Regions from separate parts of the Homo sapiens genome. Here region 2 is linked to region 1. The links come from fine-mapping of genetic effects on gene expression. Tissue or cell type: whole blood. Region 1 holds a variant in brackets; the other region holds the start of a gene. All regions are shown on one strand. Distances are between the middles of the regions.

Evidence for each region. PIP is the estimated chance that this variant, and not a neighbour inherited with it, causes the effect.
Region 2: NCF1 starts here. The variant in region 1 is fine-mapped to the expression of NCF1 in whole blood (INTERVAL, PIP above 0.99).

The regions. Positions count from the first base shown.
Region 1 is chr7:74,699,358-74,704,701 of GRCh38, forward strand. GTF2I (general transcription factor IIi) reads left to right here. Exons shown (of 35, transcript NM_032999.4): 5 at 890-1,073; 6 at 1,249-1,277. It overlaps GTF2I-AS1 (GTF2I antisense RNA 1), which reads right to left. Exons shown (of 4, transcript NR_110044.1): 3 at 853-1,023. Among named protein-coding and RNA genes, the nearest start is that of GTF2I-AS1, 27 kb to the right of the region's middle. The variant CT/C (reference allele first, on the strand shown) is at 2,870.
Region 2 is chr7:74,771,497-74,776,668 of GRCh38, forward strand. NCF1 (neutrophil cytosolic factor 1) reads left to right here and starts at 2,515. Exons shown (of 11, transcript NM_000265.7): 1 at 2,515-2,607. The coding sequence starts at 2,536. RefSeq lists an enhancer at 796-1,341.

The DNA.
Region 1 (5,344 bases):
TCTCAGCTCACTGCAATCTCCGCCTCCCGGTTTCAAGTGATTCTCCTGCCTCAGCCCCCTGAGTAACTAGGATTACAGGTGTCCGCCACCATGCCCGGCTAATTTTTGTGTTAAATTTTAGTAGAGATGGGGTTTCACCACATTCGCCAGGCTGGTCTCGAACTCCTGATCTCAGGTGATCCACCCACCTTGGCCTCCCAAAGTGCTGGGATTACAGGCGTGAGCCACCATGCCTGGCCTAGCTGTTTCTTTCTAATAAGCATGCTCATCTCTCTAATTCCATGCAAAGCCACCTTTTCTTACTCTTGTCACATCATAAAACAAAGCTCTTACAAGAAAACAGTCAAAGGAGGAGATTGAGGTTTTACTGCAGGGTCATAGGTGAAAATCAATTCTCTGGAATGGGATTTTCAGTATGTGTGAGGCTCGCTGCCCAATAGGTTGACAGTATATACTCATTTGTAAATGGGAAGTTTGTATTTACCTGATAAGTTTTCAATGAGAATATTAGCCAAAACATTCCTGGTATTTTATGGTAATAGTTGGATGTGCTGGGCTTCTGTATTCTGAGGCCAAATTGTACCTGAGAATATGCCAGGATGGGACCATCTTCAAGAAAGACAATAGTGCAAGAAACCAACCATTGCTCTCTCTATGTGTTTTTTAAAGTAAAATATTTTATCTACTTTTCATTTTGGCCCTTCGGATCAGTTTCAGGTTTAGACCTTCTGCTGACATGGGGAGATAGAATGCTGTAGTATTAATTAATTTTGAAATCATATATTATAAAAAATCATGGATGCCCTTATTAAGCCACAATAAGCTAGCGATGATTTCATTTTGTAATCTTACCATTGAATGATGTTCATCCGCTTTTCATCTGCCCCAGGGAAAGCTTTAGGCAAATCCACAGTGGTACCTGTACCATATGAGAAGATGCTGCGAGACCAGTCGGCTGTGGTAGTGCAGGGGCTTCCGGAAGGTGTTGCCTTTAAACACCCCGAGAACTATGATCTTGCAACCCTGAAATGGATTTTGGAGAACAAAGCAGGGATTTCATTCATCATTAAGAGGTGAAGTGCTTTCTCCCTTTGTACCCATCAACAGTTGATTCGTATAAATTTGAATATTTAGCTTACGTTAATGTATTTTTAAAATTCATATTTAACACAGAAGTCATTTAAATGTATGCTTTACAATAATTTTGCGTATTCATACGAAGTTTTGTTTTGTTTTGTTTTAATGCAGACCTTTTTTAGAGCCAAAGAAGCATGTAGGTAAGTAAGTGCTTTGCTTCCTTGATAGCTGGCTGGCCTCCGTTTTGCTAGATTTTCATACACTTTAATGGTTTCTGTTTTATTGTCTTTGAGAATATGATGTCAGACATTTTCGGATGGGCTGTTTAGATGTTTATATAATCCACAAAAGGTTCATTGAGCTAAAAAAGTGGAGACTTGTTTTTTTGTTTTCAGCTTCGCTGCTTGTTTTCTATAGAAGATCATACATCTGCCCTCACTTACCAGAATTATGAGTAGGATTTAATTGACCTAATGTCATCGACTCGGCAAGACGTTGTTGGGCACAGCATTGGGTGGGGAGGGGATACGCAGCTGTGTATCAGCATTACCACTTTTGAGAGCTGTGAGTCTCACGGAAGAGAGAAAATTCTGTAAAATGAACATGGCAAGAACATTGCATCCCTACGGCAAGAATGGCTCTGAGAAAGTGCTGTGGATGTTATTGGAGGTTGGATTCCTTTATAGTTCAGGAAAGAGTTCATGAGGAAGAGAGCATTTCCAGGAAGGGCGTTTGAAGAATGATGCGGATTTCAGCTTCCTTTAGGGAAGTCTAGCCATTTCATTTGAAGGGAAAACAGGATAAAGAGTAATACCCTTTAGAGCCAGGTTTATTTGAGACTTTCGGAAGTAAATAACCAGTATCATTGGAATACTTTTAAACATGTAACTATGAAAGGAAAAAATTATATATACATAAACATACACATTGTGTTTTCTGTTAACCTTTGTCTTATTCTCATTGTGGTGAAAAGATTAATTTTTTAGCAGCTTTATTGAGGTATAATTGATACACCATAAAATTCACCTGCCTTTTTTTTTTATTATTATTTTTTGAGACGGAGTCTTGCTCTGTCGCCAAGGCTGGAGTGCAGTGGCGCGATCTTGGCTCACTGCAGCCTCTGCTTCCCAGGTTCAAGTGATTCTGCCTCAGCCTCCCGAGTAGCTGGGATTACAGGCACATGCTGCCACGCCCGGCTAATTTTTTGTATTTTTAGTAGAGATGGGGTTTCACCATGTTAGGATGATCTCGAACTCCTGACCTCAAATGATCCACCCGCCCCGGCCTCCCAAAGTGCTGGGATTACAGGCGTGAGCCACTGTGCCCAGCCAAATTCACCTGTCTTAAGTATATAATTCACTAATAGTAGATTTACAATCTTAAAATGTTTTTAAGGGGTTTTTACCCATCATCACAGTCTTAATTTTGGGATGCTTTCATCGTCCCTGTCTCTGTTATTTCATGAATGTTGTAGAAATGGAATATGTAGTATGTATCCTATTGAAATGAGCTTTTTTCACTGAGCATCACTCACTCGAGGCTCATCGAGCTTGGTAGGTGTAGCCGTAGCTTCTTTTTATTGCTGAGCACTAACTATTCTGTGACATGAACATACTGTCTGTTGATCCAGTCATCAGTTTATAGATATTTTGGTTGTTTCCACCTTTGGGTATTGGGAATAATGTTACAGTGAACATACTTGAGCAAGGTTTTGTCTGGACATATTCCTTGATATCTCTTGGATATTTACGTAGGAGTGCAATTACTAGGAATAGGGTAAATTTACACTGAA[CT/C]TTTTTTTTTTTTTTAATTGAGACGGAGTCTCGTTCTGTCACCAAGTTGGAGTGCAGTGGCATGATCTTGGCTCACTGCAACCTCCGCCTCGTGGATTCAAGAGATTCACCTGCCTCAGCCTCCTGAGTAGCTGGGATTACAGGCACGCGCCACCACACCCGGCTAATTTTTGTATTTTTAGTAGAGACGAGGTTTCACCATGTTGGCCAGGATGGTCTCAATCTCTTGACCTCATGATCAAGGGAGGCCTCTCAAAGTGCTGAGATTACAGGCGTGAGCCATCGCGCCCTGCTACACTGAACTTTGAAGAAACTGACAAGCTGTTTTCCAAGGTGGCTATACCATGTTATATTCTCACAGCAGGATAGGAGGGTTACCCCCACATTGCTGCCAACTTACTTCTTGATTTTAGCCATTGTAATAGATGTGAAGTGGTATCTAATTTTTTTTGATTTTTAAAAATTTCTCTAGTGATTGTTGATGTGTTTTTACTTTTCTTTCTTTCTTTCTTTTTTTTTTTTTTGAGACAGGGTCTCACCCTGTCGCCCAGGCTGGAGTGTAGTGGCGCCATCTCAGCTTAGTGCAGCCTCAACCTCCCAGGCTCAAGCAATCCTGCTGCCTCAGCTTCTCAGTAGCTAGGACTACAGGCGTGTGCCACCATACCCAGCTCATTTCTGAACCTTTTTTTGGTAGAGACAAGCTCTTGCCGTGTTGGCCAGGCTGGTCTGGAACTCCTGAGCTCAAGTGATCCGCCTGTGTCAGCCTCCCAAAGTGCTGGGATTACAGGCTTGTGTTATCTTCAATTGTGCTTATTGGTCATCCATACATATTTTTTGGAGAAATATCTATTTAGGTCCTTTTCCCATTTAAAAATTGGGTTTGTTTGTCTTTTTATTATTGAGTCTTGTTTTTTATATAGTCTTGATATAAGTCTCTAATTGATGATTTGTTAAAAAAAAATTTTTTTTTTCTTTTTGCAATGGTGTCACTCTGTTATCCAGGCTGGAGTACAGGATTTGGGAATATTTTCTCCAATTCTAATAAATCTACATTATCCTTATTGTATAACTTGTCTTCTTCCCTTACTTGGTAGTATCCTTTGAGGCACAAACGTTTTAAATTTTGATAAAAATAAGTTTATTCTTTTGTTAACTTGTGCTTTTTTTTTTGAGACAGAGTCTCGCTGTGTCACCCAGGCTGGAGTGCGGTGGCATGATCTCAGCTCACTGCAACCTCTGCCTCCCGGGTTCAAGCAATTCTCCTGTCTCAGCCTCCCGAGTAGCTGGGACTACAGGTGCCCGCCACCATGCCCGGATAACTTTAGTATTTTTAGTGGATACGGGGTTTCACCATATTGGTCAGGCTGGTCTCAAACTCCAGACCTCAGGTGATCCACCTGCCTCAGCCTCCCAGAGTGCTGGGATTATAGGCGTGAGCCACTGCGCCTGGCCCTCACTTAAGCTTTTGACTTCATATTCAAGAAACCATTGCGTAAACCCAAAGGCATGAAGATATGACTTCTGTGTTTTCTTCCACAAGTCTTATAGCTTCAACTCTCACATTTAGATCTATGGTTCATTTTGAGGTCATTTTTGTATATTATACAAGGTAAAGGTATAAATTCATCTTTTTGCACGTGGATATCCAATGATTCCAGGACAATTTGCAGAAAAGACCGTCCTTTCCCTCAAGATATCCTTGTTATCTTTGTTGAAAGTCTTTTGACTCTTTGTTTATTTCTGGGCTTTCTATGTAGGAGATCATGTTGTGTGAGAATCAAGACAATTTACCCCTTTCTTTGCAATCTAAGTGCCTCTTATTTCTTCTTCTTGTTGCTCTGACTAGAATATAAATGTCACACAGCATTGGTGATAGCAGACATCACCTTGTGATATTAGTAGGAAAGCATTCTGTCTTTGACCATGAAGTATGATGTTAGTGGTAGGATTTTTGTGTAAATCTCTTTTAAGATGGAGAAATATTTATCATGTTTATGTTAAATTTCAGACTTAAAAGTTTTTTTTAAACTTAATTATTATTTTTATTTATTTATTTATTTATTTATTTTTTTATTTATTTTGAGATGGAGTCTTGCTCTGTCGCCCAGGCTGGAGTGCAGTGGCATGATCTTGGCTCACTACAACATCTGCCTCCCAGGCTCAAGCAAATCTCCTGCCTCAGCCTTCTGAGTAACTGGGATTACAGGCGCCCGCCACCACACCTGGCTAATTTTTATATTTTTTTAGCAGAGACGGGGGTTCACCATGTTGGCCAGGCTGGTCTCAAACCCCTGACCTCAAGCAATCTACCCATCTCAGCCTCCCAAAGTGCTGGGATTACAGGTGTGAGCCTCCACGCCCAGCCTAATCTCAGCATTTTGGGAGACCAGAGTGGGAGTCTCCCTTGAGGCCAGGAGTTCGAGATAAGCCTGGGCAACATAGCAAGATCCAATTTCTACAAAAAATAGAAAACA
Region 2 (5,172 bases), 72 kb after region 1:
CAGGAGAATTGCTTGTACCCGGAAGGTGAAGGTTGCAGTGAGCCGAGATCATGCCACTGCATACCAGCCTGGGGGACAGAAAGAGACTCTGTCTCAAAAAAAAAAAAAAGAAAAAAAGAAGTGAAGCACTTGCCAAGCAAATCTTTCAGAGCAGGTGGAGTGGACCCTACACCTCTTGGATAATAAATGCACTGGATAATAAAAGCAGGAACAGGCCAGGTGCGGTGGCATGTGCCTGTAGTCCCAACCTACTGGGGAGGCCAAGGCAGGAGGACTGCTTGAGCCCAGGAGTTGGAGGCTGCAGTGAGTTATGACCAGGCAACTGCACTCCAGCCTGGGTGACAGATAGAGACCCTGTCTTTAAAAAAAAAAAAAAAAAAAAAAGGGCCAAGCACAGTGGCTCATGCCTGTAATCCCAACACTTTGGGAGGCTGAGGTGGGTGGATCTCCTGAGCTCAGGAGTTCAAGACCAGCCTGGCCAACAGGGTGATACCCCTTCTCTACTAAAAATACAAAATTAGCCAGGCGTGGTGGCGCACACCTGTAATCCCAGCTACTTGGGAAGCTGAGGCAGGAGAATCGCTTGAACCTGGAAGGCAGAGGTTGCAGTGAGCCGAGATTGTGCCACTGCACTCCAGCTTGGGCAACAAGAGCGAAACTTCGCTTCAAACAAATAAATTAACGCCCAGCATGTCTTGGCTTTCATCTGCCAGACCTCAACCCTCACCCCCAGGAGATCAGGTCCGGACCATGAGCTGACCCTGGACTCAGGCAAGGGTGAGTTGGTGCAGCCCTGGCCTGCTGGGAGGCACAGGCTGCAGCAGGCTGCCTGGGGCTGAGGCCCGCCACTCATGAACTCATGACCTTGAATGAGCTCCAAAAGCTCTGGGCCTCCCAGGCTCTAGGGGGAGTGGGAGAGAGAGGCCTCAGCCTGTCCCTGGGCATGCTGCCCCCTCCTCACCTCTTTGTCCCAAATCCCCTTCCTGGCAAAGCTGACAGTCTTAATATCACTCTGGAGAAAACTGAGTCAGCCCTAAGGAACAATTCAATGAACCATTTGCTTACTTGAGGATTGGAACTCAAGTCTCACTCAAAGTCTGTGCCATTTTCGTCCCAGCTGTCACTGGCCCTCATCCACACACACCCAAGGATGAGCATCTAACGCTTGCATGCACACTCCCATGCCCGCGTTCATTCACTCATTCATTCATTCATTCACTCATTCATTGACTCATTCATTCATTCACTCACTCATTCATTCACTCAGTGAATGTTGCAGTCACGATCCAAATATTTATGGCCTCTGTGTGCCAGGCACTAGATGGAGGGGCTGGGGCTAGAGCCCCTGATAACCCGGTCATGCCCTAGCTTTCCTGGGACACACATTGTGGTAAGGGGAGACTAAAAAAATTAAGTCAGGCCAGGCACGGTGGCTCATGCCTGAATCCCAGCACTTTGGGAGGCCGAGGCGAGTGAATTACCTGAGGTCAGGAGTTCAAGACCAGCCTGGCCAACATGGAGAAACCCAGTCTCTAATTAAAAAAAAAAAAAATTAACCAGGTGTGGTGGCACATGCCTGTAATCCCAGCTACTCAGGAGACTAACGCAAGAGAATTGCTTGAACCCAGGAGGCAGAGGTTGCGGTGAGCCGAGATCGCGCCATTGCACTCCAGCCTGGGAAACAAGAGCGAGACTCCATCTCAAAAAAAAAAAAGTGGGAGGCAGAGGCAGGAGGATCACTAGAGGCCAGTAGTTTGAGACCATCCTGGGCAACATAGCAGGACCCTGTCTGTACAAAAAAATTAAAAAAAATTTAACCGGGCATGGTGGCACACACCCGTAGTCCCAGCTACTCCAGAGGCTGAGGCAGGAGGATCGCTGGAGCCCAGGAGTTGGAGGCTGCAGTGAACTGTGATCCCACCACTGCACTTAAGCCTGGATAACAAAGCAAGACCCTGTCTCAAATAACAATAGCAATAATAATAAAGAAAAATTAAATGCAATTTGCGATGCATCAGTGATAAGTGCTCTGCAGAAAAAGGAGGCAGGAAGAGGCTGAGAAAGGTATGAGGTTTGCTATGCAATGTGAAGTTATCAAGGAAGGCTTCTCGGAAGAGGTGACATTTGAGCAGAGAAATGGAGGAGAGTTATGGAGGGAAGATGGTGAATGGGGGGAACATGGTCAAGACCAGGAATATGGTCAAGGGGGGAAAGATGGTCAAGGGGACGCAGCAAATGCAAAGGCCCTGAGGCAGGAGCAGCTTGATTCACCCCCAAAACCCGTGGGGCCCGTGCAGGCGACGGGAAGGACAAGTGTAAACCCTTTTCCTTGTCCCTGCAGGTGTGTGTGAACATGAGTCTGCCCATGTTTACACCCTGCAAGCCTGAAGAGTCCCCAGAAACTGAAAGAAGAAGCAAAGCCCTTTCTGTACCCTCCCTGCCCCCTGTCCCGACCGCGACAAAAGCGACTTCCTCTTTCCAGTGCATTTAAGGCGCAGCCTGGAAGTGCCAGGGAGCACTGGAGGCCACCCAGTCATGGGGGACACCTTCATCCGTCACATCGCCCTGCTGGGCTTTGAGAAGCGCTTCGTACCCAGCCAGCACTATGTGAGTAGCTGGTGGAGGGCATCCCGTGGGGGGAATACGGGAGGGACAGCACGGCCACCCTTGCAGTCCCAGGGCCAACCAGCTCCAGTGAGGACTAACGGGGCAGGGTCTTGGGCACCTGGTCCCTGGTCTTTGAGCCTGGATCTACCCCTCTGATCCCTGGGAAGACAGTTCCCTTGGACCCGCCCTGGGCCCCAGCCCTTTACTGTCCCCGCCTGTGTCCCCAGCCAGGCCCTCAGCCTTAGCCAGGAGTCCTCTTTCTGCTCCCCTGCCATGGCCAGGCAGCCCAGCGCTCTCTCAGGTCCGAGGCCCACTCCTCCAGGAAGCCTTCCCTGACTAGCCCAGCTATCAGAGAGTGGCCCTCCCAAGAGGGAGGCCTGGAAACTAAAGCTCTCTCTCTCCCCAGCTGCCTGTAGTGTCAGTTAGAGTCTTATCCTCTCCAGTAGGGTGACACCATGACAGGGGCCAATAGAGTCCTCCCATCTGTCCCCAAGGAGGCTGGACAAATGCCTGCTCAGACACACAAGTCCACTGGGTCCCCTAATCCCATAGGAAGGCCAGGGAGGAACTACATTTAGGAAATTGAAGCTTGTATGGAACATTTAGTCCTATGTGCCAAGACCTTTCTCTTTTTTGTTATTTTTTTGTTTTTTGAGACAGAGTCTTGATCTGTTGCCCAGGCCAGAGTGCAGTGGCACGATCTCAGCTCACTGCAACCTCCGCCTTCCAGGTTCAACTGGTTCTCCTGCCTCAGCCTCCAGAGTAGTTGGGATTACAGGTGCCCACCACCACGCCTGGCTAATTTTTGTATTTTTAGTAGAGACAGGGTTTCACCATGTTGGCCAGACTGGTCTCAAACTCCTGACCTCAAGTGATCCACCCACCTGGGCCTCCCAAAGTGCTGGGATTACAGGCATGAGCCACCGTGCCTGGCCTGTTTTTTTGAAATGAGGTCTGGAGTGCAGTGGTGCGATCATAGTTCACTGCAGCCTCGACCTCCCAGGCCCAAGTGATCCTCCTGCCTCAGCCCCTTGAGTAGCTGGGGCTACAGGCGCACACCACCATGCCTGGCTAGTTTTTAAAATTTTTGTGGAGATGAGGTTTCACTATGTTGTCCAGGCTAATCTTGAACTCCTCGGCTTAAGCAACCCTCTGGTCTCAGCCTCCCACAGTGCTAGGATTACAAGCGTGAGCTACCGTGCCTAGTCACTTTTCTCCTTTTCTTTGTAACTTTCAGTTTTGAAATTTCAAATTTACAGAAAGGCTACTGGGTGTCAAAACGGTACCAGTCACTCCAATAGTCTTTCACTCACCTTCATCCACACCTCTCTTTCTGGGGATATTTTCTGAATTATTTGAGAGTGAGTTGAAGACGTGTTTCTTTACCTCTAAATACTAGTTGTTGGGCATTTCTTAAAATCAAGGCATTCTCTTACATAATCACAACACACGTGTCAAAATCAGGAAATTAACATGGACAAAACACCATTATCCACCCACAGACTTTACTGAGGTTTCCCCGATTATCCTGCTTGTCCTCTGCAGTGAAAACTTTTTTCAGGTCTAGGATCCAGTCAAGGATCAATGTCATAGCCTTTAACCTTCTTTAATCTGGATCAGTCTTTTTTCTTTTTCTTTTTCTTTTTTTGGACACGGAATCTCACTCTGTCGCCAGACTGGAGTGCAGTGGTGCAATCTCGGCTCATTGCAACCTCTGCCTCCTGGGTTCAAGAGATTCTCCTGCCTCAGCCTCCTGAGTAGCTGGGAATACAGGTGCGCGCCACCATGCCCAGCTCGCATTTTTTGGTAGAGACAGGGTTTTGCCATATTGATTCTGGATCAGTCTTTTTTTTTTTTTTATGAGATGGAGTCTTACTCTGTCACCCAGGCTGGAGTGCAATGGCACAATCTCCACTCACTGCATCCTCCGCCTCCCAGGTTCAAGCAATTCTCGTGCCTCAGCCTCCCGAGTAGCTGGGATTACAGGCATGCGCCACCATGCCCGGCTACTTTTTGTATTTTTAGTAGAGACAGGGTTTCACCATGTTAGCCAGGCTGATCTCGAACTCCTGACGTCAGGTGATCTGCCCGCCTCGACCTCCCAAAGTGCTGGGATTACAGGCGTGAGCCACCGTGCCAGCGGATTCTGGATCGGTCTTAATCAGTCTTTGTCTTTTGCAACTTTGATGTTTTGCAGAGAGCAGACCAGTTACCTTGTAGAATGTCCCTTAGTTTGGGTTTATCTTCATTAGATTCAGTTTGTGTATCCAGGGCAGTGGATCTTAGATGCAATTCTGTCTTCTTTTTAATTTTTTTGAGAGGGAGTCTCGCTCTGTCACCCAGGCTGGAGTGCAGTGGCACAACCTCAGCTCACTGCAGCCTCCGCCTCCCGGGTTCAAGCAATTATCCTGTCCCAGCCTCCCAAGTAGCTGGGATCACAGGTGCCCATCACCACTACCGGGTAATTTTTGTGTTTTTAGTAGAGACAGGGTTTCACCATATTGGTCAGGCTGGTCTTGAACGCCTGACCTCAGGTGATCCACCTGCCTTGGCCTCCCAAAGTGC